Linked DNA regions of Homo sapiens. The protein of the gene in region 3 purifies or fractionates together with the protein of the main gene of each other region. This does not show direct contact. Each region holds a gene or a part of one and is shown on either strand. Other genes may lie near its edges.

Evidence for each region.
Region 1: the proteins of SPANXN4 (region 3) and CARNMT1 purify together in Homo sapiens (affinity purification with mass spectrometry; one large-scale study listed by BioGRID and IntAct). This does not show direct contact.
Region 2: the proteins of SPANXN4 (region 3) and DUSP3 purify together in Homo sapiens (affinity purification with mass spectrometry; one large-scale study listed by BioGRID and IntAct). This does not show direct contact.
Region 4: the proteins of SPANXN4 (region 3) and SSU72 purify together in Homo sapiens (affinity purification with mass spectrometry; one large-scale study listed by BioGRID and IntAct). This does not show direct contact.
Region 5: the proteins of SPANXN4 (region 3) and MAN2B2 purify together in Homo sapiens (affinity purification with mass spectrometry; one large-scale study listed by BioGRID and IntAct). This does not show direct contact.
Region 6: the proteins of SPANXN4 (region 3) and UBE2R2 purify together in Homo sapiens (affinity purification with mass spectrometry; one large-scale study listed by BioGRID and IntAct). This does not show direct contact.
Region 7: the proteins of SPANXN4 (region 3) and INTS9 purify together in Homo sapiens (affinity purification with mass spectrometry; one large-scale study listed by BioGRID and IntAct). This does not show direct contact.

The regions. Positions count from the first base shown.
Region 1 is NC_000009.12:75,021,794-75,025,293, reverse strand, and holds part of CARNMT1 (carnosine N-methyltransferase), read left to right. Parts: intron 1-3,500.
Region 2 is NC_000017.11:43,776,178-43,780,343, reverse strand, and holds the start of DUSP3 (dual specificity protein phosphatase 3), read left to right. Parts: upstream 1-1,366; 5' UTR 1,367-1,419; coding exon 1,420-1,544; intron 1,545-4,166. UniProt on the Homo sapiens protein: Shows activity both for tyrosine-protein phosphate and serine-protein phosphate, but displays a strong preference toward phosphotyrosines. Specifically dephosphorylates and inactivates ERK1 and ERK2.
Region 3 is NC_000023.11:143,031,870-143,034,811, forward strand, and holds the end of SPANXN4 (sperm protein associated with the nucleus on the X chromosome N4), read left to right. Parts: intron 1-2,155; coding exon 2,156-2,377; 3' UTR 2,378-2,442; downstream 2,443-2,942.
Region 4 is NC_000001.11:1,547,364-1,550,863, reverse strand, and holds part of SSU72 (RNA polymerase II subunit A C-terminal domain phosphatase SSU72), read left to right. Parts: intron 1-3,500. UniProt on the Homo sapiens protein: Protein phosphatase that catalyzes the dephosphorylation of the C-terminal domain of RNA polymerase II. Plays a role in RNA processing and termination. Plays a role in pre-mRNA polyadenylation via its interaction with SYMPK.
Region 5 is NC_000004.12:6,578,189-6,581,688, forward strand, and holds part of MAN2B2 (epididymis-specific alpha-mannosidase isoform 1 precursor), read left to right. Parts: intron 1-204; coding exon 205-310; intron 311-3,500.
Region 6 is NC_000009.12:33,815,759-33,819,959, reverse strand, and holds the start of UBE2R2 (ubiquitin-conjugating enzyme E2 R2), read right to left. Parts: upstream 2,801-4,201; 5' UTR 2,203-2,800; coding exon 2,026-2,202; intron 1,334-2,025; exon of another isoform or gene 1,092-1,333; intron 1-1,091. UniProt on the Homo sapiens protein: E2 ubiquitin-conjugating enzyme that accepts ubiquitin from an E1 ubiquitin-activating protein, and catalyzes its covalent attachment to other proteins by an E3 ubiquitin-protein ligase complex.
Region 7 is NC_000008.11:28,879,970-28,883,469, reverse strand, and holds part of INTS9 (integrator complex subunit 9), read left to right. Parts: intron 1-3,500. UniProt on the Homo sapiens protein: Component of the integrator complex, a multiprotein complex that terminates RNA polymerase II (Pol II) transcription in the promoter-proximal region of genes.

The DNA.
Region 1 (3,500 bases), on a different chromosome or scaffold from region 3:
AAGTAAATTGCATATAGCAGTAAACAGATTTCATCAAATTTAATGCAATACCATAAACCTTAAATAACACCATGGGTCCCATATGACGTGCCACTGGTGATGCTGCAGGTGCTCCCAAGAAGCAGAGAAAAAAGACATTACAAGAAAAAGTTGATTTGTTTGATATGTACTGTAGATAGAGGTCTGCAGTTGGAGGTTGCCCCCCAACCCCATTTCAGACAGAGGATTCATCTTGTAATCAAATTATGTAAACTTATAGTATTGATAAATGCAGTGCAGTAGTGTAAATGTATTTTCCCTTTCCTACGACTTTCTTAATATTTTCTTAGCTTTATTGTAAGAATATAGTACGTAATATATTAACATACAACATATCTGTCAGTTGTTTATGTTATTGGTACGGCTTTCGGTCAGTAGTAGGCTATTAGTAGTTAAGTTTTTGGTGAATCAAAGTTAGGTGTGGGTTTTCGACTGCACAGGGGGTTGGTGCCCCAACCCAAGTATTGTTCAAGGGTCAGCTGTACGTCCAGATTTTGCAGGGTTCAATTTTACTGCAAAATGTCTTTTAGTTAATACGTAGGAGATTTAGATAAAAGGTCATAAAGCAAGGAATGTCTTTTGATTAATATTTTCTCTTTCTAATGGGTTTCAATTTTGTGATTCCCACAGATTTTGCTTAGATGACATTCTCATTAAGGTAAAAATGGATATAGCTCATTTGTATTGAATAGCAAAAATGTTAGTTTTATAACCCAGTCTTGTTACGAATGAAGCACCTCAGCACATAGAAAACACTAGAGTTGAAAAGCTGAAAGTCTTTTCAGAAACTTCTTACTTTTAGAAATAACGGGGTGAGATTTTTTAATATTGAGATTTAGAACTGATTTTTACAGGTGAGGATGTGGATAGACACAAAGCGGTAAGCAACTTGCTCAGGGTTACACAATCCAGTTGTGGTAGAATCTGACCTAAAATCCAAAATCGTTACCTAAAATTTTACTGTGCATTAATGAGGAGTTATACTAGTAACACAAATTTAATGTTAGGTATTTAATAAAGATTTAAAATGAATCAAGACAGGCCAGGCTTTGTTTCTGACAAGTTATGTTTTTTCTATTTGGATTTCCTAGAGTAGTTCAACTAGGTGCAGAGGAATGGGCCTGTGACCATGGCCTTTAGATCAGACCTGGTGTGGGCTCACCCTGATGACAGGTGACTAAATCAGAGTTGAGGTCACTGCTGACACCAGGTTTCTAGAGAGAGTTAGAGGTAGAGATACCACCATTGGGGAAAAATGGCTACTAAGTTTACTTTCTCCTCTTATCAGCAAGAGGATGTCACCTCCTGATGCTGACTTAGTTCAGAACCAAGGAGAGTCTGATTTTTGTAAAATACTCCTTCAAAGCAGGTTTGGCAGAGTTTCTTAAAAGGGCCAGGCAGTAAATATTTTAAGCTCTGAAGGCCAAGTGGTCTCTTGTTACAACTCATCAACTCTGCCCTTGAATGGAAGGAGCCTTAGGCTTTGTGTAATCAAATAGTGTGGCTTTGTACCAATAAGACTGTACAAAAACCAGGTAGCCAATGGGCCCCTGCCTTAAAGCAATTCTGATAGCGTAAGCATGTGCAGGATAGTGAAGTTAGCCCCAGTTATAAGGGTATAATAAGGATTGGACTATATTCTCAACTTTAGTAAGATCCCACCTATTTTAAGAGTCACTGGTGGATGTATGTTATGGCAGCTTTGCACACCATTAAGTAACCAGGGGTTTAAGGATCTCATCCTGCTCTGTGTAGTTACTTCTGTATCAAAAATTGACAGCTCTTGTAACCAATCTATAACTTATCTCAACTCACCCTTGCAACCTTGATATTACTTGGTGATAAGTAGTCTCCATGGAAAACCAAAAGTGGCACCCGTGGGAATATAACTGAACATTTATTGCTTTTTACATATGCTGAAATACGGAGATATTGAATAATGACCAAGATGACACTTGTGTTTTAGAATAATTCTTCTGATTAGAGGTGGGGCAGGAAGGGCAGGGGAGGAGTTAGGAAGTAGAATTGAAAAGTATCCTGGGTTTATTGATTGTGGGACTAGGAGAAGAGGCATTTAGGATGACTCCTTAATTTCTTTTTCTTTTTTTTTTTTTTTTTTGAGTCTTGCTCTGTCACCCAGGCTGGAGTGCAGTGGCACAATCTCAACTCACTGCAACCTCTGCCTCCCAGGTTCAAGCGATTCTCCTGCCTCAGCCTCCCAAGTAGCTGGGATTACAGGCGCATGCCACCATGCCTGGCTAATTTTTTGTATTTTTAGTAGAGACAGGGTTTCACTGTGTTAGCCAGGATGTTCTTGATCTCGAACTCCTGACCTGAAGTGATCTGCCCACCTCAGCCTCTCAAAGTGCTGGGATTACAGGCGTGAGCCACCATGCCCGGCTGATGACTCCTTTAATTTCTAACTTGGGTGCATTTGTTAATCTTAGCCATGAAGGAAGGAGGGCAGGTTTTTGTGGGGCATGTGCTAAGTTCACTTTGGATATGAGTTTTGAGTATGGTGAGAGGGAAGTTGTGGGGCATCCAGAGCCCGGGAGTAAACACTAGGAAGAAAGCTCTGTGAGGCTGTTCAACTGTTGAAGCTCTGCTGTTTGCCTAACTTGATGTGGCCATTTTAGTTCCTTTAATGTCATACTCTGCTGTTAGGAATGTAAATTTATGGAGTCTTTTTGCACATCATTTTATATCAAGAGCCTTAAAAATACTAACTCCTGGCCAGGTGTAGGGGCTCACGCCTATAATCCCAATATTTTTGGAGACCAAGGTTGGCAGATCACTTCAGGTCAGGAGTTCAAGATCAGCCTGACCAACATGGTGAAACCCCATCTCTACTAAAAATATAAAAATTAGCCGGGCATGGTGGTGTGCACCTGTAGTCCCAGCTACTTGGGAGACTGAACCAGAAGAAGCGCTTGAAGCTGGGAGGCAGAGCTGGCAGTGAGCTGAGATCATGCCACTGTACTCCAGCCTAGGTGACAGAGTGAGACTCCATCTCCAAAAAAAAAAAAAAAAAAAAAAAAAAAGTATTCCTTCTCACCTGGTAATTCTGGTTTTGAGAGTTTATGCTAATTTTTTTCCTAAATTATAGACAGATTTTGAACACAAAATGTTCATCACAAAAACAAGTGAGTGTCTAAATGCCCAGTAGTTGGGAAATAGCTAAGTCACTGATGGTTACCTAAGATGGAATGATGAACATCCACTTTGTACCCCACAAATATAGACAATTATAATTTGTCAGTATTCAGCTTAAAAAAAGTAAGATGCTAGATGACTTTTTTTTTTCTTCTCTTTTTTGGAGACAGGGTTTTTGCTCTGTTACGCAGCCTGTAGTGCAGTGACACAATCATAGCTCGCTGCCCCCTTGACTTTCTGGGCTAAAGCAATTCTCCTACCTCAGCCTCCCAAGTAGGTGAGACTACAGGCATGCACCACCACGCCTG
Region 2 (4,166 bases), on a different chromosome or scaffold from region 3:
AAGGGAGTAGGAGCAGCAGAGCATGGCTGGCTGCCTCTGGGCTTGTGTTTTTAATGCTAACCTCGGCTCAAGTCAAGATGAAGGTCAAGGAACTCGAAAGCTTTCCCCGCTGCTTAGAATGCAGATGCTGCCAGCCAACACCAGAAGGAAAGAAGTGGTGCACCGGGAGGGGTGGGCAGGCACGGGGTGGGGTGAGGGATACAGAAATTCCAGCCTTGGTTACACATCTTGGGCTATCAGCTAAGTAGTCTCCACTGCAATAGCTCCCCTGAAGGTGCAAGACCACAAGTTTTGGAGGAGGAGAAAGTTGACCCTAATGATAATCGGATCCAATTCCTTTTGCAAATGAGGAAACTGAAGACCACAGCAGCAGCAACGTTACTCAAGAACCAAGTTGGTGGCAGGGCTGGGCTCAGGATGTGGGGTTCCTGAATTCAAGGCCAAATTTGCCCTTTTGCAGGAAGGAAACTGCCAGTTTTTCATGGCAGTAGGGGAGGGCAGCTTTCCTCCAGTACAGAGACTATCTTTTGTACTTAGTGGGAGTTCAGGAAATGCTGAGTGGCTTATGGTGGGCTGGCATCTGCTCCAGGAAGGGCTGCAGGAGTCTGATTTATCTCCACCCCAGCACAGGGTATAGCACCCACTGGGTGCTCAACGCATTTGTTGATGAAGGACTAACACCTATTGAGTGCTCGCCATGCAGTGCTGGGTGCCTTCTTTGAATGTCACATTTAACCCTTCCAGCAACCCTAGAATTAGGTACCATTACTATCCCGCTTTTTTTTTTTTTCCCTGCAAACAGGCTCAGGTTAAGTAATTCCTCAGAATTCCAAACCTGACTGCTTTTAAGCACGACGATGACTCTCAATGAATGTTGAAAGCAGATGCGCCCCAGAGTAGGGCTTCTCAGACTTTGACCGTAGGGACCTCCTGGGGTCCGTAAAATGTCCACTCTGATCCAGCAGGGCTGGGCTGGGGCGGGGATTCTGTCAAGCGCCCGGGTGGTGCCTCCACTGCAGGGAGCCGCTCACGAGCCGAACCCGGCGGTCCCTGTAATCATGAAAGACTGAAGCGACCCCTAGGTGTACCTCCGCCACGAAATGTTTATTGGGCCCTGCATTTAATTCAGGGAAGGAAGTTACCGCGCTTGCCAGTTTACAAAGATACACAAACGGCCTGGACCGGGATGGGGCGAGGACCCCTGAGACTCCAGGGCGGTGGCGTCTTCCCCCCGGGACGCGCCCAGGAGTGGCGCGCGGGGCCCCCGCGTCACGGCGCCCGCGCTCCGCAGCTCCCGGAGCCCGGCGGGCCCGCCCCAGGGGCGGGACGGGGCGGCTCCCGGCGCGAGCCCCCGCCCAGCTGATCCGCCGCTCTCCGCCTCGCTTGCTCCTGCCGGGCGTGCAGGGCCCCGCCGCCGCCATGTCGGGCTCGTTCGAGCTCTCGGTGCAGGATCTCAACGACCTGCTCTCGGACGGCAGCGGCTGCTACAGCCTCCCGAGCCAGCCCTGCAACGAGGTCACCCCGCGGATCTACGTGGGCAACGCGTGAGTCCCTTTCGCGAGCCCGGCCCCGCCGTCCCTCTCGGGACGCCCCGCCCACCCGAGGCTGGGGTCGGGGTGTCGCGAGTCTTGGGTTGGGGGAGCCCGGGCGCGATGGCCCCTCCGGGAGCCACAGCGGGGGCTTGGGAGGGGCCTGGAGTCGACGCCTACCCCCGCGCGTGGGGCCAAGGAACTGGAACCCTGCCTGGCCGGGCGCGGCCCTTCCCCGTGGCGGGGTGCACGGAGCCCGGGTGGCGCCTGCCCGGGTCCCAGCCGCCACCCGCTTGGGGCTTGGCCTTGGGCGGGGTCGGGGCTACCATGTTCACTTAACAGGTGACCCTCGGTCGCCCGGCCGGTCTCCTGCCCGCGCGTCATGTGACAGCTGCCTGGTTCTGCAGTGAGGTCACCGCGGAATGTCTGCCTTCGCCGCCATGGCAACGGGCCGACGTCACAATTCGGGCATGGAATTTTCCCGGCCCGGCAGTCCCGGATCAGGGAACCTAAACACCCCAAATGAGCGAGTCCGGGGAGCTGGGCCGGGATTTCCAGGCCCCCACCTTCCAGATGTGATTTGATTTACAGGAGATTCTAGAACGGTCCAGTGATAACCCCCCTAAGGACCTGAGCCACCACCTAGAAAAGGCTCTTGACCTTTCACCCCCAGGCTCTGTCACCCAGGCTGGAGTGCAATGGCGAGATCTCGGCTCACTGCAACCTCTGCCTCCTGGGTTCAAGCAATTCTCCTGCCTCAGCCTCCCGAGTAGCTGGGATTACAGGCGCCCGCCACCACGCCTGGCTACTTTTTGTATTTTTAGTAGAGACGGGGTTTCACCATATTGGCCAGGCTGGTCTCTTGGCCAGGCTGGTCTCAAACTCCTGACCTCATGATCCGCCCACCTCGGCCTCCAAAAGTGCTGGGATTACAGGCGTGAGCCACCGCACCCGGACAGTAAGAGATTTTTTTTAATTTAAATTTTAAATTTTTTTTCTAGTAAGAATGTCTAATCAGCAGGAAAGAACCAGTGTTAACATTCTGAGATGTGAAATAGGAGCCTCAAGAAAGAATATATTAGCATGCCTGTACAGCCTTGGAAAGCCTCAAGTTGGATTTTCACGATACTCTGAGGACCCAGTTACCAAAATCCTAAGCTTCATGGCTCAGCCCAAGGATGGCATGTTGAAAACTCAAAACTAACCCTCCTCCCATTTTACAGAGGAGGAAATGGTGGCTCAGAGTGTGTGAGGGACTACAAGGACAGGGTCAATGTCTTGTTCATGTATGTATTTCCTGACCTCCGCTATGACCTGCTGTTTAGCCTGCCAAGGACTGCCACGGAAATGGGGGTCATCATGGAACTAGAAGGGGTCCATCAGGCCCCAGCCTCATGGGGACAGTTCTCATCCATTCCATCATTCATTCACCAGTCTGAGCACCTGCTTTATGTCAGGCACTGTACAATGTTCATTCATAGTAGAGATAGTAATAATGATAATTGTAAATTTTTTGAATGTTGAATTATTAATAGTATTAGAGGCCTGGCACGATGGCTCACGCCTGTAATCCCAGCACTTTGGGAGGCCGAGGCGGGTGGGTCACCTGAGGTCAGCAGTTCGAGACCAGCCTGACCAACATGGTGAAACCCTGTCTCTACTAAAAATACAAAAATTAGCTGGGCATGGTGCCTGGCGCCTGTGATCCCAGCTACTCCGGAGGCTGAGGCAGGAGAATCGTTTGAACACGGGAGGTGGAGGTTACAGTGAGCCAAGATCGTACCGTTGCACTCCAACTGGGCAACAAGAGCGAAACTCCATCTCAAAAAAAAAAAGTATTAGAGAAGGGAGATGAATGGGAGTGACTCTTCAAAGTGTTTTTTTCTATCAGCCACTGCTTCACAGTCTTGCGCGGTGTCCTAAGCAGGAATAAACAGAGTCCCACAGTGTCAGCCAAAGGCTTCAGGAATTGGAAAGCTCTAGAGACACCCTTCCTCTTGCACCAAGCAGCAAGCAGGCCTTGTTAGCCTCAGGAATCCCGCTTGCTTGGGCAGGTTGGCCATTCAGCTGTCATCACTTCCCAAGTGGAAACCAAGGTTGTACACGTCTGGTGTAGCCAGAGTGGCAATTGCTGATGGCCACTGTAGAAAATACATCCCTTGCCCTCTAAGCACCTCTGACCTTGACTTGGCCAGGGGTGTGGGGGTTCCTCAACAGGGAGGATCAGTGAGCACCAAGCACCAAGAGGATTTGGGCTCCATTCCCTTAACAAAATCAGGGCCGCAGCCACGTCCTCACAAGGCAGAGCCAGAGCCTGTGTGAGCCACATGTGCCAGGCCTTGGGGGTTTTGCAGCAGATGTGGGCATGAGGGGCAGAGTGAGGTGGAAGATAGAGCAGGGCTGGATGTCGGGAGAAAGGAGGTCTTCTCCCAGATCTGCCACCAGCAGCACACGGGGCCTGTGCCCATCCCTCTGCTCATCCTGTTGGGCCTGAGTTCAAGCTCTGTTAAGCAGGGATATTGCCATCCTTGTTCCTCACAGGGCTGCTCGCAGTGGGCAAGCAAGATCACACAGGAGGTGGCATTTTATAAAGTATAAACTGCTATTTGGACTGGGATGTTTTGTGAGATGAAATAA
Region 3 (2,942 bases):
CAGGGCTTTTGAAAGGCAGTAGAGGAAAAGAGCATGGGCAGCTTTATTTATGCCAGCTAGAAGGCATGATATCGTATGGCCTTGTTTTTGTCTGTCTGCAGAAGTTGCCTGATAATTCCAATTGGTGTAAGTCCTGGGGACAGCTAGGGTCCCTATTGGGTTATGGGCAGCATGTTGTTGGTGGAGGGTGTTTGCATTGGCATAGACAGCCATCCAGATGCATTCCCTGTCTTCTGGGGAGAGGGTGGAGGAGAGCATGACATACGTGTCTTGCCAGGTAAGGTCGTAAGATTGAGTGGCATACAAAAATTCCTTGTGGAAAGAGATGGGATCCTTGGATAAAGGAGCCAAGTCTCTTTTAAAATGGGAGAGGCTGGCTAGAGAGATGGGAACATGATCTCAGATTATGCTTTTGTCCCTCATGATCTCCTGCAAGGGAAGGGCTTTGGAAGGCCTTTGGGTGTGTGCCTGGTTTTCAGCACTAGGGGGGTGGGTGTGAGACCTGGTTTGTGGTGGAGAACGAAGAGGGGATGGAGGGCGACAGTAAAGGGGTGGAGGAGCCAGAGCCAAAGGAGAAGAAGGAGGAAATGATGTTGGGAGGGGGACTGAGATAGGGGTTTTTTTAACCAGGCTGAAATTAGAGGAGAAAGGCTTGTCCTGAGGAGGAGGCATTTTTGCGGGTTTTTCATTGAGGAGGAGGATTTGAAAAGGGGAAAAAGATTGGCAGAGAGAGAGAGCAATCCATGAACGGAGATAAGCAAAGCACTTTTGATCCTTTACCATTGCATTAGAGAAAGTTTTTAGATTATGTTCAATTTGGAAGTTGAAAGTTTTGTTGTTTGGAGGAGGGGAGTGCATACCCCTGAAGGGAATGAGTATCTCCAGAGGGTAGTGAATACCCCAGAGGGAAGCAAGTACCTCAGAAGGGAGTTAATATCCCAGAAAAGAGTGAGTGCCCAGAAGGGGAGTGAATACCCCGGAGAAAAGTGACTACCCAATTCCTCCCAGGAGAATGGACGTAGGAGAGCTGGGATGTACCAAAGAGCTGTGGCAGCTCTTCACAGTCCCCTAGAGGCCAGAGTGGCTGGAGTGGTGAGCGTTCTGAAGGTGTCCCCTGAGAAGGCAGGCTGCGGTCACCTGGTGACCAGGGAGACCTCCAACTCAGTGCTAGGATTTTCTGGAGAACCAGCAGAAATAGAGAAAAATCTGGAAAGGAGGAAAAGGGAGATTCACCCACTAACTGGAGACTGGTGTTGGATGTAAGATCCAGCAATGGGGGTGATCCTTACTGGAGCCACCCAGAAAGGGTAAGGAAGCAGAGGATGGAGAGTTTGATCAGGACCTAGAGGTCAGCCCAGGACTGGAGAAAATGAGAGAATAAGGAGAACGGGGCTGGGAACAGGTAGTCCACTCAGGATATGGAAGCAGGCTCAGGTCTAGTTTTTGCTGCTTGCTGCCTTCCAGGATGCAAAGAAGACTTACCTGGTAGAACTCAATCCCCATCCTGGGTTTTGGCACCAAAATGTTAGGTTTTGAAGGGAAGGCAAGGGTTAAAGACACACAAAGAGGGGACCACTCAAACAGCAACACAGGTATATTGCCGACAGCTGCAGAAGTGGGGGACCAGCTTAATGCCAGAGCCCACTACCACTTACAGGCTGGGGTACTTACAGGTATTGGTGGGAGGCAGCTGGGCAGTATGGGATGCTGCCTGGCAGGATATTGATAAGATATTCTTATGATCAGGTGGTTTGACCCTTTTTCCTGTGGGATGTCATTGTGGTGTTTCTTGGACCTTTGCCCAGAAAGATATGATAGCAATGTTTCTTAGTTGGGCCTTTGTCCACCTTGTAGTCAAGTGGTTAGACAGGATGTTTCTCATGGCCTGAACCCCCATGGAATGTTTCACTTTGACCGAGGTCTGCATAATAGCAGGGAGCTTACAAAGTCATGCAGTTTGGAGTAACACAGATGACCCTACCCATGCTCCTCTTCTTCCCCATAGATCCCTACCCTATGATTCCACCTTGCTCTTCTCTGGCACAAGCCCCTTCCTCAACCTGCATTCCTTCTTATAAAGCCCCCCTTGCTATCTATTCTCTACCCTCTTCATCCAAAATAACACCATTCTGGCCTCTCCCTGTTTTTTTACCAGAAGAAGAAGAATCTGCACAGAGCCTCAGCCCCTGAACAGAGTTTGAAAGAGACAGAAAAAGCAAAATATCCAACATTAGTGTTTTACTGCAGGAAGAATAAGAAAAGAAATTCAAATCAACTGGAGAATAACCAGCCTACAGAGAGCTCCACTGATCCAATCAAAGAGAAAGGAGACCTAGACATATCTGCAGGATCTCCACAGGATGGTGGGCAGAATTAGTCCAAATTGGACAAATCATCACCACTGATGGCGATGATTACAATAAAATCAGTTTGAGGAGCTGATGACTGTGTATACCTCTGCCTTTTTTTCTGATGGTGGGGAGGAAGGGAAGGGAAAAGATAGGCATTTGAGAACGGAGGGATATGAGATCCTGTAGCATTGGCGGACAGATCCACAGGTTAGCCAGACATTGTAAATAAAGACTGGGGGAGGACTGATTCCTGGAGACAAATTTTCTTCTTAAAATTTTATCTCACAGGAGAGGAAGAAAAGGATTTGGTGTTCCTTGGAGCACGTGCATGTTTAGAAGAGCACATAAGAAGATCTGTATTGTATGTAGGTGACAGTGACACTCTTTCCAAAATGAAGACATCAGAATCACCACCTTCAGGCCACATACCTCAGAGTGGTGTGTTTTGTAACTCACCCAATGCTGTGAGCAACTGAAGGTCCTCAAAAGGAACAAGAACCTCACCCTACAGAAAGTAAGACAGCATGCCACACACAATAAAATAATGGTGTTTGGAGGACATGCTTCCAATACTAGGGCGCTTGTTAAGAA
Region 4 (3,500 bases), on a different chromosome or scaffold from region 3:
GGGCGTGTGGTGGGTGATGGTTCAGTGGAGTGAGTGGTGGGTGCAGCCTTCCTGCTGATGAACCACCAGGCCTTCCGGCCGGCACCAGTCCATGGTCCCTGGCTCCGGCAGGCTTGTCCTCCCTGGTGTGGTGCTTTGCTAAACCTCCGCCCTCCCTCCATCTTCCTCCCACAACAGAACAGTGTTGAGGCTCTGCCAGGCGAGATCACTGCCTCGTCCTGACTCCCTGGGCCCGGGACCATCCCTGGCAGGCACTTGAGGGGGGCCAGCAGCCTGGGGCCCGGGGCTCAAGGCCCCGTGGGGTCTGGCGAGAGGCAAGGGCCCAGGCACTGATTCTCTGAGTGCTGGCAAAGGGCCTGTGGTGTCCGCTGGTGTCTGGGAATTGCTGGAGGGTCAAAAGCATTAGGCTTAGCCAGGAAAGTCATGGTTAGGGTTAAACTCATGTCTGCTGAAAATTGCCTGAATTAAAATTGAACAAATGTGCCTTAACTCGAAAGAAAAGAGCAGACATTCAGAATAACACGTTGCCAAGAACCCTGAAGGGTGGCCCCTCTGAGGCACCAGCTACCCCCAGCCGGGCTGGCGTGGAGGATGGCGGGGGTTGTCTGCTGGTTGGGTGGCATGTGGACTTGTCTTGGATGCCATGATTTATATACATATATATATATATACTTTTTTTTTTTTTTTTTTGAGACACTCTCGCTCTGTCTCAGGCTGGAGTGTAGTGATGTGATCTCGGCTCATGGCAATCTCCCCTCCCAGGTTCAAGTGATTCTTGTGCCTCTGCCTCCGGAGGAGGCTGGAATCACAGGTGTGCACCACCATGCCTGGCTAATTTTTGTATTTTTAGTAGAGAAGACGGGGTTTTGCCATCTTTTTTTTTTTTTTTTGAGACAGAGTCTCGCTCTTGTCACCCAGGCTGGAGTATAGAGGCGCAATCTCGGCTCACTGCAACCTCCACCTCCTGGGTTCAAGCTATTCTCCTGCCCCAGCCTCCTGAGCAGTGGGATTACAGGCACCCGCCACCATGCCCGGCTAATTTTTTATATTTTTAGTAAAGATGGGGTTTCACCATGTTAGCCAGGATGGTCTCGATCTCCTGACCTTGTGATCCACCCGCCTCGGCCTCCCAAAGTGCTGGGATTACAGGCGTGAGCCACTGCGCCCAGCCATAATTTTTGTACTTTAGTAGAGTCAGGGTTTTGCCATATTGGTCAGGCTGGTCTCGAACTCCTGACCTCAGATAAGCCATCCGCCTCGGCCTCCCAAAGTGGTGGGATTATAGGTGTGAGCCACCATGCCTGGCTGCAGCCTTTTTTTTTCTTTTTCTTTCTTTTTTTTTTTTGAGACAGAGTCTCGCTCTGTCCCCCAGGCTGGAGTGCGGTGGTGCGATCTTGCTCACTGCAAGCTCCGCCTCCGGGTTCACGCCATTCTCCCGCCTCAGCCTCCTGAGTAGCCGGGACTACAGGCGCCTGCCACCACGCCTGGCTAATTTTTTGTGTTTTTAGTAGAGACAGGGTTTCCCTGTGGTAGCCAGGATGGTCTCGATTTCCTGATCTTGTGATCCACCTGCCTCGGCCTCGCAAAGTTCTGGGATTACAGGCGTGAGCCACCGTGCCCGGCCCCAGGCTGGTAATTTTTTATTTTTTGTAGAGGCAGGGTTTCTTTGTTGCTCTGTGTGGACAGAAAGCTTAGTTTGTTTCTCTGATGGTTAGTCCCCCACAGAATTTTAACGTGATTCTGTGTTGATGACACTTTCTGTTGCATGAGACAATATTCCAGATCTCTCTGGGTCCCTCCTGGATTCAAGGCATCCTCCTGCCTCGGCCTCCCGAGTAGCTGGGACCACAGGTATGTGTCACAGCCCAAGGCCTCCAGCACAAGCCTTATTCTCCCATCCCCAGACTCAGGAGGCCATGCAGCCACACACCGGGGGAGGGTTCCAGACGTCACTGTGGGACGGGAGTGACACCAACAGGGCAGGGAGGGCCAGGACATTGGCTCATGCTGGCCGGTGGCCTCTCGGGATTGGCCACACGTGCTCAACCCATGGGAATCTCACTCAAGGGTCTGATGGGCCTGCTCCTCCTGTTTACGCCAAAGTCCAGAAGGCCTCCGGGGGCGAGTGGGAGGACGCAGAGTGGGTGAGCGGAGCTACCTTCCTCACCGCGGTCCATGTGGAAGCCAGGGCAGGGGAGGGGCCTGCCCACTGCACCCACCCCCAGCACCCCACCCCGTGGCTGCCACATCTCACCTCTGGACAATTTTCTTGGCCCATCCTTGGGAGTTTTTTTTTTTTTTTTTTTTTTGAGACAGAGTCTTGCTCCTGTCACCGAGGCCAGAGTGCAGTGGCATGATCTCAGCTCAGTGCAGCCTCCGCCTCCTGGCTTCAAGCAATTCTCCTGCCTCAGCCTCCAGAGTAGCTGGGACTAAGGCGCCTGCCACGACGCCTGGCTAATTTTTGTAATTTGGTATAGATGAGTTTCACCATATTGGCCAGGCTGGTCTCAAACTCCTGACCTTGTGATCCGCCTGTCTCAGCCTCCCAAAGTGCTGGGATTACAGGTGTGAGCCACCGCGCCCAGCTGGGAGTTTATTTCTTAGATGTGTGTTAACTTCAGCTGAGGCTCCTGTGTGCCTCTGTTTCATGGCCTTCGGGTGTTGGCCGCCCTCTACTGAACGTGGTCCCTGAGGCCGCAGGGACTGTGCAAAGCCGGATGTCCAGGCCCTGGGAGTCCAATGGGGGCAGTCGATTCTATGGATGGCACATCCTCTTTGCCTGCCCTGCCCTGGGCCCTCTCTTGGCCCACTTTTCTGGGTACGTTTCAGGCCCTCATGCCCAGTTGGGGCCCTAGCATGGGTCAGGCCCTCCGCCTGGTGTCGCCTTCTTGCCCGGGCTGAGTCTTTGGTTTCTTTCTTTGTGGGTTCAATGTCGAACGCTTTGCGTCAGTGGGACTTCTGCAGGACCTGGGCGGCGCAGGTGTCCGGAAGATGGGACAGGTTTCTGTTCCGATGGCGCCTCTCTCCCCTTCCTCCCGCCCGGCAGTACTTAGGTTCTTCCTTCAGAAAGGATTTCCCCATGACTTGAAGAGCAGGCTCTCGCACGCAGGCCCGAAACCTGCTCAGCCTCCCCGTGGCCCTGAGCCTGTCTATTGAAGGCCCCGCCTCACCCGCCAGCGGCTCCTGTCCTCTCGCCTTGCTCTGAGCCTTTGCCTCGTGGCACTCACTGGCACCGTGGTTTTGCTGCCGGAATTCAGGTGGGATCTTGCGTCCCTGTGAGCTCATGGCTTGGTCTGTGGTCCCTTTGGTCCTCCTCAGGTCCTCACAGCCTCTGGTGGGGCTTGCAGGTCTAGCCCTCTGGGCGGGGCCTCACCTCGCATCTCCTCGCCAGGAGATCCAGAAGGGTGGCTGCTCGCTCATCCTTGTGTAGCTGAGGAGGCTGCTGCTTTGTCCCTGAAGTAGACATTTCTCCTTAACTGAATGATTCTTAATTTATTGCC
Region 5 (3,500 bases), on a different chromosome or scaffold from region 3:
TCAAATACCACCTGAGGGCTGCATGATTTCTAGGTGGTGGGAACACAGTGTGGACCAGGACAGACAGTGCCCTGCTTTTATAGAGTAAGCAAGGGTGGGGAGTTTTATGCAGGGCGTGTGTGGCGCTGTAGGTGTGTTCCCCACAGACCCAGCCATGCTCAGGAGCCGTAACTGGCTTTTTTCTCTCTGCCTGCCCATGTCAAGGTCCGCCAGCTCCTGGAGGAAGGACGCCTGGAATTTGTCATCGGAGGCCAGGTCATGCATGACGAGGCTGTGACGCACCTTGATGACCAGATCCTGCAGCTCACAGGTTTGGCCACCCTACCCTGCACCCAGGGTCCCTCAGGACCTCCAGTGGGGCTGGGACATGGTATCAGAACCCCCAGGTTCTGAGCTCTGTCTGCCCCTCTTAGTGGGGTCGGGGACCTTAACCAGTGAAAGCAGTGATTTGCTAGTGCCATATTCATGCCTCACCAAGGAAGTTGAATGTAGGGGTTAAGAGCATGGATGCTAGAGTCAGATGGTCTCAATATATCCTGGCTCTGCCAATTCCCTCCTCTGTGACCCTGGAAAGGAATGTAACTTCAGTTTCCTCATAGATAAAATGAGTTTGATGGTAATACCTACCTCAAAGGGTTGTTGTGAGTATTAAATGGGATAATTCAAATAAAGCACTTTAGTAGGATGTGGGTTCCCTAGTAAATGCTCAGTAAGTGTTTGCTGCCTTCCATCACAATTACCACCTTCAGCACCATAATGACCATGACTACTACCATCACCACCACCACCACGATGACCATCACTACCACTACCATCACCACCACCACCACCATCACCATCACCACTACCACCATCACCACCATCACCACCACCATCACCATCACCACCACCACCACCATCACCATCACCAGCACCACCACCATCACCATCACCACTACCACCACCACCACCATCACCACCACCATCACCATCACCACCACCACCACCACCATCACCATCACCAGCACCACCACCATCACCATCACCACCACCACCACCACCATCACCACCACCACCCTTCACCACCATCACCACCACCACCATCACCACCACCATCACCATCACCACCACCATCACCACCACCACCACCATCACCACCACCACCACCACCACCATCACCATCACCACCACCATCACCATCACCACCACCACCACTACCCTTCACCATCACCACCACCACCATCACCATCACCACCACCATCACCACCACCCTTCACCATCACCACCACCCTTCACCACCACAATGACCATCACTACCACTACCATCACCACCACCATCATAACTACCATCACCACCACCCTTCACCACTGCTATGACCACCACTACCACTACCATTACTACCACTACCATCACCACCATCACCACTACCACCATCATCTTCACCACTACAATGACCATTACTACCACTACCATCACCACCACCCCCTAAACACTATCACCATGATCACCACCCATCACTGTCGCCACCACCATCACCACATCCATTACTACCATCCCCTCCACAATCATCATCACCACCACCATGACCATCTCCCTCACCATTGTGTCCACTGTCCTCAGCACCATCACCCACAGTGCCGTGGGGCACTCTACTCACCATTTACCAAATGCCTTTCACAGTGACACCCCAGCCAATCCTAATGGCGGGCTGATGGTGAGGCATGGTGATGCCCAGTTTCATTTTGCAGATGTAGAAACTGAGATCCAAAGAAATGCAGTAACTCTCTCCAGGGTAGATGGCCAGGACTTGAGTCCAGGCCTAGGGACTGAAGCTCCGAGTCCACAGTCACTCCACTACAGCATGGGCCCTGATTTCCCCATTTGTAAAACATCCAGGCAGAGAGCAATGTTGTCAAAGGATGTTTTTGGCACTCTCCCTTTTCTCATCTGTAATCTGGAGTGTTCCCCTGTCTCAGTTTCTTACTGCCTTACATCTGGACTTTGCTCAAACCCTAGACTTGCCCTTCCATGAGAAGGAGGCGTGATGGACACAGCCCTACAGACAGAGCTCCTCCTGTGGCCAGGAGCTCAGCCCCTGCTTGTCCCCCTGCATCCCCACAGGCCCAGAGGTAACAGGGGAGGACAGCAAGGCTCAGAGGGAGCACCTTGCCCTCAGCCGCCTGCTGTGGCTCCCTGACTCCAGAGCCCCTGCTCTTTCACTCCCCCATGTGAAGTGTGGGCAAGGGATCTATCCCAACAGACTTCCCCCACACCCCTTCACAAGCCCACTGCCAGGGAATGTGTGACACTGTAGGCGTGTCCCCCACCTGCCTCCTGCCCCGTGCCAGCGAGGAGGCTCTGGGGCTGTTTCTCACCTGTGCCATTTCACGCAGTGCTCCCCCTCATTCTCCACCCTCCTCCTCAAGATGCAGCTGAGAAGCCCCTCCCGCAGGAAATCTCTGAGTCTCTGCAGTTCTGTGTCACCTCCCCACTTAACCGCTGAACCTCAAGATGCCCCTGGCAGGGACCCCCATCTGACTCATCTCAGCACCCAGCATAGGGTCTGGCCCAGACCACTGCTTACTGGGCAAGGCTGGGCAAGGGGTGGGCGCTGAACTGCCCTGCCCTGAGGGTACCCACCACTGGGGTACCTCGCCTCTGGCCTCAGCCCACCGTGCCTAAGTGCTGATACCCCAGCGCTGACCCTGCAGGTCTGACCTGGCAACTGGAAGCCTCAGGGAAGCTGAGGCTGTGTCGCTCTGGGGCAGGAAGAGCCTCCAGAGACACAAGAGACAGCGGCTGTTGTGAGGCTCCATTTCCAAACCTGTCCAAGCTCATGGGGCCCTCAGGGTACAGACATGTGGGTTTCTTTCATGATAACCACCTTGTTCTAGGTACAAGATGTACACGTATTTTTTTTTCAGTCCTCAGGGCAATCTGGTAGATGGGTAATCTTACAAATGCTTATTTGTAGAGAAGTTTGAGGCTCAAATGCTATCCAAATGTGCCCACCACCAGCTAAGTGATGGGACCCAGATCCAACCCTAGCCCGGCCGAGTCAGGAAGGTTACTTGTGGCTGAGCCCCTCTCACTGGCGGCTGAGCCAAGCCCTTTCCCATCTGCTATCTCTTAGTTGCCTCAGAACAGCCTGGTAGCAAGTGGTACTGTTCACAGCCCCATTTGACAGATGAGGAAACTGAGGTACTGAGAGATGCGGGATTTATATATATGCAGTAGGTAACAGAACTGGCGCTCAAGCCCATGTGTGCCTGGCCTGGGCTCTTTCCTTAACTTGTAGTCCCTAGGGCGGGGGCAGAGTGTGTGTATCAGACCACCCATCTCAGATGTCCCAGGCATTCTGGCTGTGAATTATGTCCACATTGGGCTGGTTTTCTCAGATATGTTGGGGTAAGAGGGGCTGGATCACCCCTCACTGCTTCCGGGCCCTTTATCCTCCATCTCACCTTGGTGGAGCCCCTGCCTCGAGGCAGGCCCTGGACAGCAAAGGAAGACAGGAGCA
Region 6 (4,201 bases), on a different chromosome or scaffold from region 3:
TGTTTTGTCAGAAAAGGCATCATGGCCGGGCGCAGTGGCTCACGCCTGTAATCCCAGCACTTTGGGAGGCAGAGGCGGGTTGATCACAGGGTCTGGAGTTCGAGACCGGCCTGGCCAATATGGTGAAACCCCATCTCTACTAAAAATACAAAAATTAGCTGGGCGTGGTGGCGTGCGCCTGTAGTCCCAGCAGCTTGGGAGGCTGAGGCAGGAGAATAGCTTGAATCTGGGAGGCGGAGGTTGCAGTGAGGCGAGATCGCGCCACTGCACTCCAGCCAGGGTGACAGAGCGAGACTCCGTCTCAAAAAAAAAAAAGAAAGGTATCACATACATTCAATTTTGTACAACTAATTTTTCCAGTATGCATAAAAATTTATATTTGACAACAGAGAATATGCTTCATCATAAACACAGCAATATCTTTTCCACTTTGTTACTAATAAGTTGCATGTTTTCTTAGTAATTTTAAATACCTCCATCTGAAAAGTATAGGGTAGGCTGACCACAAAAGATGAAGCCTAACAGTTGGTAGGGGTACCGCACTTACATAATATTCTAAAAACGTGCTTTTCCTAGGTACTCAGTGACTATATACAGTAGTGAATATTAAACATTCCTGTATCAATCCCATTTCCTACAAAGTTGACCTAATTTCAAGCATAAAACTGAGGTTTCCACCTTTAGAAGGGTAGAAAACAAGAGTTAAGTAATTGGGTAGTCCTAAAAATACACATCACAACTACATGACTAAGATACTCATTTAAAACTTGTGCCAAGATAACCCCTCCCTTCCAAACTAAAATTGACTCACTGGCCTATTTTACTTAATTTTGAAAATAAAAAAATAAAACTAAATGGATTCCTAAGCACTCATTTCCTCTCTCTGCCCCCATCATTTAAAATATTCAGACTTTCAATCTGTGATTCCTCCCTGCAAAAACACTCAAGTAAAAACAAAACAAAACAAACACTCATTATCTCCAAGTTAACTACCTTGGAGTTAAAAAAAAATCATTAGATTCTGGAATGATAACCACTGTTCTAAGACCATATAAAACAACAGAAACAATGTCTGTGGTCGCTAAGGAACCATACATCCCACCCAGAGAAACGATCTCGCCTCAGATGATACTTGTCATCTGTGAGACCACCCCTTTAGCTAGAGTTAACCACTTGAGCAGGTTTCAATTTTGTCTCTGAAAGTAGGAAGCTATCAGTCTCCCTACATGACTCGTTCCACCCTTTGTGGATACTTCTACCTGTAGAAAAAAAGGTTGGCAAACTTGGTGGCATGGTGAGGACAAAGGGCATTTTGAAAGAACCAGTGACTGAGGTAAGCAGAGAATGTGAACGGAAAGAGGGTTAAAGTTCCCCCAAATGGATAATGACAAGACGACGCGGGCACCCTTTTTTTTTTTTTTTTTTTTTTTACCACCCCTAGGGTCCCATTCTTCACCACCACCCATTGGAATGCAAAGTTGGCACTACCACTACCCAAGATGCCCAACAAATCCTCAAAATGTCAGGGCACTCGGCAGCTTCTGAAATGACAAGCTGGTGCCCCTCCCCCACCCCACCCCCACCCCCACCCCCCAAAAAAGAAAAGTCCAATCCAGTCGGTGCAGGTCACCCTGCCCTCTGGGGCAGTTCCAGCCTGCGCAGGGAGGGGTTCCGACCGGAGAACGAAAAAGCACAGATAGACCACCGCTCTTTCCACCCACCCTCAGCGGGGGAAACAAAGGCGGCCTCCTCCGCCCGTAGACACTACCCTAACCAGAGAGGCTCTCCGATTTCCCGGTGCAGCCTGCCCTCCCGCCCCCGCCCGAGCCCCCGCCCCCATGACAAAGAAAAGGCACTCGGCGAGCAAGGCCTTCCTGCCTCCAGGGATGGGGGAGGGGGCTGCACGGGTGAGAAGCCCCCTCCACTCGCCCGTGCTCATACTCCTGGTCCCAGGAACTGCAGAAAGCGGCGGGGAGCCGGAGGCCTCGGCCGCGGAAGCAGGGTCCGGGAGGAGGGTGAGGGTACCTTGAAGTAGCCGCCTTCGTAGAGGGTGTTGGGGGGTCCGAAGATGGCCACCTCCCAGTTGTAGAGGTCGGACTCGTCCACCAGGGTGATCCGGAAGCCCTCCACCGGTTCCTCCTGCAGGGATTTCAGCTCGAGCATCAGGGCCTTCTGCGAGCTGGTCATCTGCTGCTGGGCCATCGCGGCGGCGGCGGCGGCGGCGGCGCCGGGCCCGGGCCCCAGTCCTCACGCACCGGCCGGGCCGGACCAGGCCCCTCCCCTCCGCTCGCCCTCCGGCCGGGCAGCACCGGGCCCCGGTCTTCACACACCCGGCGGGCCAGACCAGGCCCCACACGGCCCGTGGGCCCGCCCGGGGTCCTCCTCACACACGACGCAGGCCGGGCCGGGCCCTTCTCCTCACACTCGGGCCGGGCGAGAGGAGAGGTCGAGGGAGTTAGGAGAATTCGCTACGGGTCCCGGTCCCGGGCCTCCCCCCCCCGGAGGGGGCCTCAACTTGGGGGGGGGGAGAGGAGGTGGAAGCGGAGGAAGGCGGCGGAGGGCCGGCGATGGTGAAGGGAGGGGGCCGGGCCGGCCCGGGAACGCCGCGCTCGCTCGCCCTCTCGTTCTCTTCGGGGGCCGCAGGGGCCGGAGGGCGCGCGGGGCAGGAGAGGGTGGGGGGAGAGCGGCGTGCGGGGGTCTCGCGGCGGTGGCGGCGGGGGCTGCGCGGGGGGAGGGGCGACGGCGGAGGAGGAGGAGAGCGAGAGCGCCTCGCGCCGCGGGAGCAACGGAGCCGAGAAGCAGGGAGGGAGGGAGGGAGGGAGAGAGGGAGGAGGGGCGCACGCCGGGTGCTGGGCGGCTCTCAGCGGCTGGCGGCCCGACGCGCGTGCGCGTGCCCCTCCCTCCCCTCCCCCCACCGTGCCTGGCTCTCCTCCACTACCACCTCCTCCTCCTCCCGTTTCCACGCCTCCTCTCGGTCTCCCGCGCGGTCGCGGCGCTTTGTGACGCTGGCGCGTGTCCCCCGCCCATAAAGATCCCAGAAGCAGCGGGGACCAAGGGCGGGCGCAGGGATTGCCGTGGCCCCAGAGTGACGGTTGTGCGGCTGGACGCCGCAGTTCCAAAGGCGTGCCCGGGAAGGGAACCCAGGTCTCCCGGCTCTCGGGGCCCTCCCCACTGTGGATCCAGGGGCCTCCGCAGCCATCCTGGGACGGGCCTGGTCGCTGCAGGCCCCTCCCCGTGACACCCAGTCTGCGGTCCCTCCACTTAGTAGCTACTTGATTAGGATGTGCTGACAATGTGGGTCTTTTCGGTGGGAACAGACCTTCCCGCAGGCCAGCCCACAGGCAAGTGTGCCCTTTGGCACGTTACTCACCCTGGGTGCGGCAGTTCCACGTGAGAAACGGGGTGAGACAAAAAGGTCAGCTTCTGCTTCCCTTCTTAACTACAAAGAGGAAGTTGTGAGGAAAAAGACAATAACAAACTGGGTCTCTAGCCCTTCTCATTGTGATTTGGGGCAAGTGCTCAGGCTGCCCTTCGCCTTCGCCATTTGTAAAATAAACTACTGTGGTTGAACTTAGGGGTCAAAGTTCCCTATAGGTGCTTGTGGCTTGAATGTCCACCCTGGAACTGAGGGACTTTCGAGATAATCATAACCGAAGTGAGATGTGGGGACAGTCTTTGGTCCCCCCGTGGTTCAGAATACAGTACTCCTTTCTCCTAGGAAGGCATGTCCTAGGATAACTGCCTAAAAAACATTTCCTAGAAAAGCCAGAATATTGTGAGAGTTCTACACACACAGTTTCGGAACTAGACAGATCTTGGTTCCAACCCTAGTTCCATTACTTCTCCCTGTATCATCAGTTTTTTGTTTTTTGGTTTTGTTTTGTTTGAGACAGGGTCTTGCTCTGTCACCCAGGCTGTAGCACAGTGGCGCGATCATGGCCCACTGCAACCTCCGCCTCCCAGGTTCAAGCGATTCTCCCACCTCAGCCTCCCAAGTAGCTAGGACTACAGGTGCATGCCTCCACACCCGGCTGTTTAATCAGCTTCTGTAAAAGGGGATTAATTATACCCAACACAAGCAATTGTAATGATTAAATGTATGTACAGCATTTAGCGTAGTGACTGGCACATGGTTAATGATTCATAGAAACTTGAAAGAAAAAAACTTTAAGGCATAGCTGTATTCTGGATACCACCACTA
Region 7 (3,500 bases), on a different chromosome or scaffold from region 3:
GTTTCTTTACTTTTACTATTTGTCTTCTGAATGTAACTTTCTTCTTTGATCTATCCTCACATGCTCTCAGTCTACTATAGACTTCATCCGTGTTTAGTAAAGTGTCCCTGGAGTAGTGATTGCAGACGTGGGAAGATGGACCAGAAAGGGGAACACATTTCTTCAGATAAAAATATGGTGCCATAAGAATCTTCAAAAGGAAGCTTGTAAAAGATCTATGGTGTTGCTTTGGAAATGCCAGTGCATAGATGTAGGAATTAAGATGATGGTACTGTGAGATCAGACAGATTGGAGAGGCAGCTGGGGAAGTGTGGGTAGATGGCAGAGGAAATCCCCTATACTCCCCAGAAAGGGGAAGGCCAGTGAGAGGAAGCCTGGAGTTGACACATCAGGCAGGGCTAAGAAAGGGGTACGTGCCAGAAATTTGCAGGGATCGCAAGAAAAGGCAAGAGTAGGAAAAGAAAGGACAGGAAGGGAAAATAGAGAAGACCCTGCAAGAGAAAGGCACTGGCTTGAAAGTCGCAAGTTGCTCAGTGATCAAGACTAGTAACTGTGTGGTGGGAACTTTACTGTGAGAAAAACAACAGGTTTAAATGGCCCCTGATTTACCATGAATTTGAAGGAAATGCCTCAAAGATTTAAAATGTTTAAATTTATTGAAAGCACATTTGAATGAACTTTTAGCTCTCTCAAAGACAGGTAATCAGACAAATGATGTTCAAGAAAGCTATTCTTTAATAGGTATTGTAAAACTAACACCTTTTTTGGCTTTAGGGTAGTTTATTTCTCATCACTGATGTTTATGAAGAGGTGGGGGAGGTGTATAATAAGATGTCTTGCATAATCCATTTCTCAGATTTATGGCTTAATCAGAGTCTCTTTTTCTAAATACATTATGTCTACATTTTTCTTTTTTTTTTTCTTTTTTTTTTTTTTTAGCTGTTAATATCGCTTGCATATATTTCTTTTTTTTTTATTTTATTTTATTTTATTTCTATTTTTTTTTTTTTTATTGATCATTCTTGGGTGTTTCTCGCAGAGGGGGATTTGGCAGGGTCATAGGACAATAGTGGAGGGAAGGTCAGCAGATAAACAAGTGAACAAAGGTCTCTGGTTTTCCTAGGCAGAGGACCCTGCGGCCTTCGGCCTTCCGCAGTGTTTGTGTCCCTGGGTACTTAAGATTAGGGAGTGGTGATGACTCTTAACGAGCATGCTGCCTTCAAGCATCTGTTTAACAAAGCACATCTTGCACCGCCCTTAATCCATTTAACCCTGAGTGGACACAGCACATGTTTCAGAGAGCACAGGGTTGGGGATAAGGTCACAGATCAACAGGATCCCAAGGCAGAAGAATTTTTCTGAGTACAGAACAAAATGAAAAGTCTCCCATGTCTACTTCTATCCACACAGACCCGGCAACCATCCGATTTCTCAATTTTTTCCCCACCCTTCCCGCCTTTCTATTCCACAAAACCGCCATTGTCATCATGGCCCATCCCCAATGAGCCGCTGGGCACACCTCCCAGACGGGGTCGTGGCCGGGCAGAGGGGCTCCTCACTTCCCAGTGGGGGCGGCCGGGCAGAAGCGCCCCTCACCTCCCGGATGGGGCGGCTGGCCGGGCGGGGGGCTGACCCCCCCACCACCCTCCCGGACGGGGCGGCTGGCCAGGCAGAGGGGCTCCTCACTTCCCAGTAGGGGCGGCCGGGCAGAGGCGCCCCTCACCTCCCGGACGGGGCGGCCGGCCGGAAGGGGGGCTGACCCCCCCACCTCCCTCCCGGACGGGGCGGCTGGCCGGGCAGAGGGGCTCCTCACTTCCCAGTAGGGGCGGCCGGGCAGAGGCGCCCCTCACCTCCCGGACGGGGCGGCTGGCCAGGCGGGGGGCTGATCCCCCCACCTCCCTCCCGGACGGGGCGGCTGGCCGGGCGGGGGGCTGACCCCCCCCACCTCCCTCCCGGACGGGGCGGCTGGCCGGGCGGGGGGCTGACCCCCCCCTCCCCCCTCCCGGACGGGGCGGCTGGCCGGGCGGGGGGCTGACCCCCCCACCTCCCTCCCGGGCGGGGCGGCTGGCCGGGCAGAGGGGCTCCTCACTTCCCAGTAGGGGCGGCCGGGCAGAGGCGCCCCTCACCTCCCGGACGGGGCGGCTGGCCAGGCGGGGGGCTGATCCCCCCACCTCCCTCCCGGACTGGGCGGCTGGCCGGGCGGGGGGCTGACCCCCCCACCTCCCTCCTGGACGGGGCGACTGGCCGGGCAGAGGGGCTCCTCACTTCCCAGTAGGGGCGGCCGGGCAGAGGCGCCCCTCACCTCCCGGACGGGGCGGCCAGCCGGGCGGGGGGCTGACCCCCCCACCTCCCTCCCGGACGGGGTGGCTGCCGGGCGGAGACGCTCCTCACTTCCCAGACGGGGTGGTTGCCGGACGGAGGGGCTCCTCACTTCTCAGACGGGGCGGTTGCCAGGCAGAGGGTTTCCTCACTTTTCAGACGGAGCGGCCGGGCAGAGACGCTCCTCACCTCCCAGACAGGGTTGCGGCCCAGCAGAGGCGCTCCTCACATCCCAGACAGGGCGGTGGGGCAGAGGTGCTCCCCACATCTCAGACGATGGGCGGCCGGGCAGAGACGCTCCTCACTTCCTAGATGGGATGGCGGCGGGGAAGAGGCGCTCCTCGCTTCCTAGATGGGATGGCGGCCGGGCAGAGACGCTCCTCACTTTCCAGACTGGGCAGCCAGGCAGAGGGGCTCCTCATATCCCAGACGATGGGTGGCCAAGCAGAGACGCTCCTCACTTCCCAGACGGGGTGGCGGCCGGGCAGAGGCTGCAATCTCGGCTCTTTGGGAGGCCAAGGCAGGCGGCTGGGAGGTGGTTGTAGCGAGCCGAGATCACGCCGCTGCACTCCAGCCTGGGCACCATTGAGCACTGAGTGAACGAGACTCCATCTGCAATCCCGGCACCTCGGGAGGCCGAGGCTGGCGGATCACTCGCGGTTAGGAGCTGGAGACCAGCCCGGCCAACACATCGAAACCCCGTCTCCACCAAAAAAAAACGAAAACCAGTCAGGCGTGGCGGCACGCGCCTGCAATCGCAGGCACTCGGCAGGCTGAGGCAGGAGAATCAGGCAGGGAGGTTGCAGTGAGCTGAGATGGCAGCAGTACCGTCCAGCTTTGGCTCGGCATCAGAGGGAGACCGTGGAGGGAGAGAGAGGGAGAGGGAGAGGGAGAGGGAGAGGGAGAGGGAGAGGGAGAGGGAGAGCTATGTCTACATTTTTCTATGCCATTAAAATAAAGGCAAGCATAATGAGATATTCTAGCTTTATAAGTCTTCTTTCCTCTATTTTTTTCCAGCATGTGGAAATATGGGTAAAAAGCAGTAGTTTTAATATGTAAATGATATTATTATAGTTACCTTTTTTTACATTGTTTAAACAGCTTTTTTGAGGTGTAATATGTAATATGTAAAATTCTTGCATATAAAACAAAATTCAATGACTTTTAGTAGATTTCAGAGT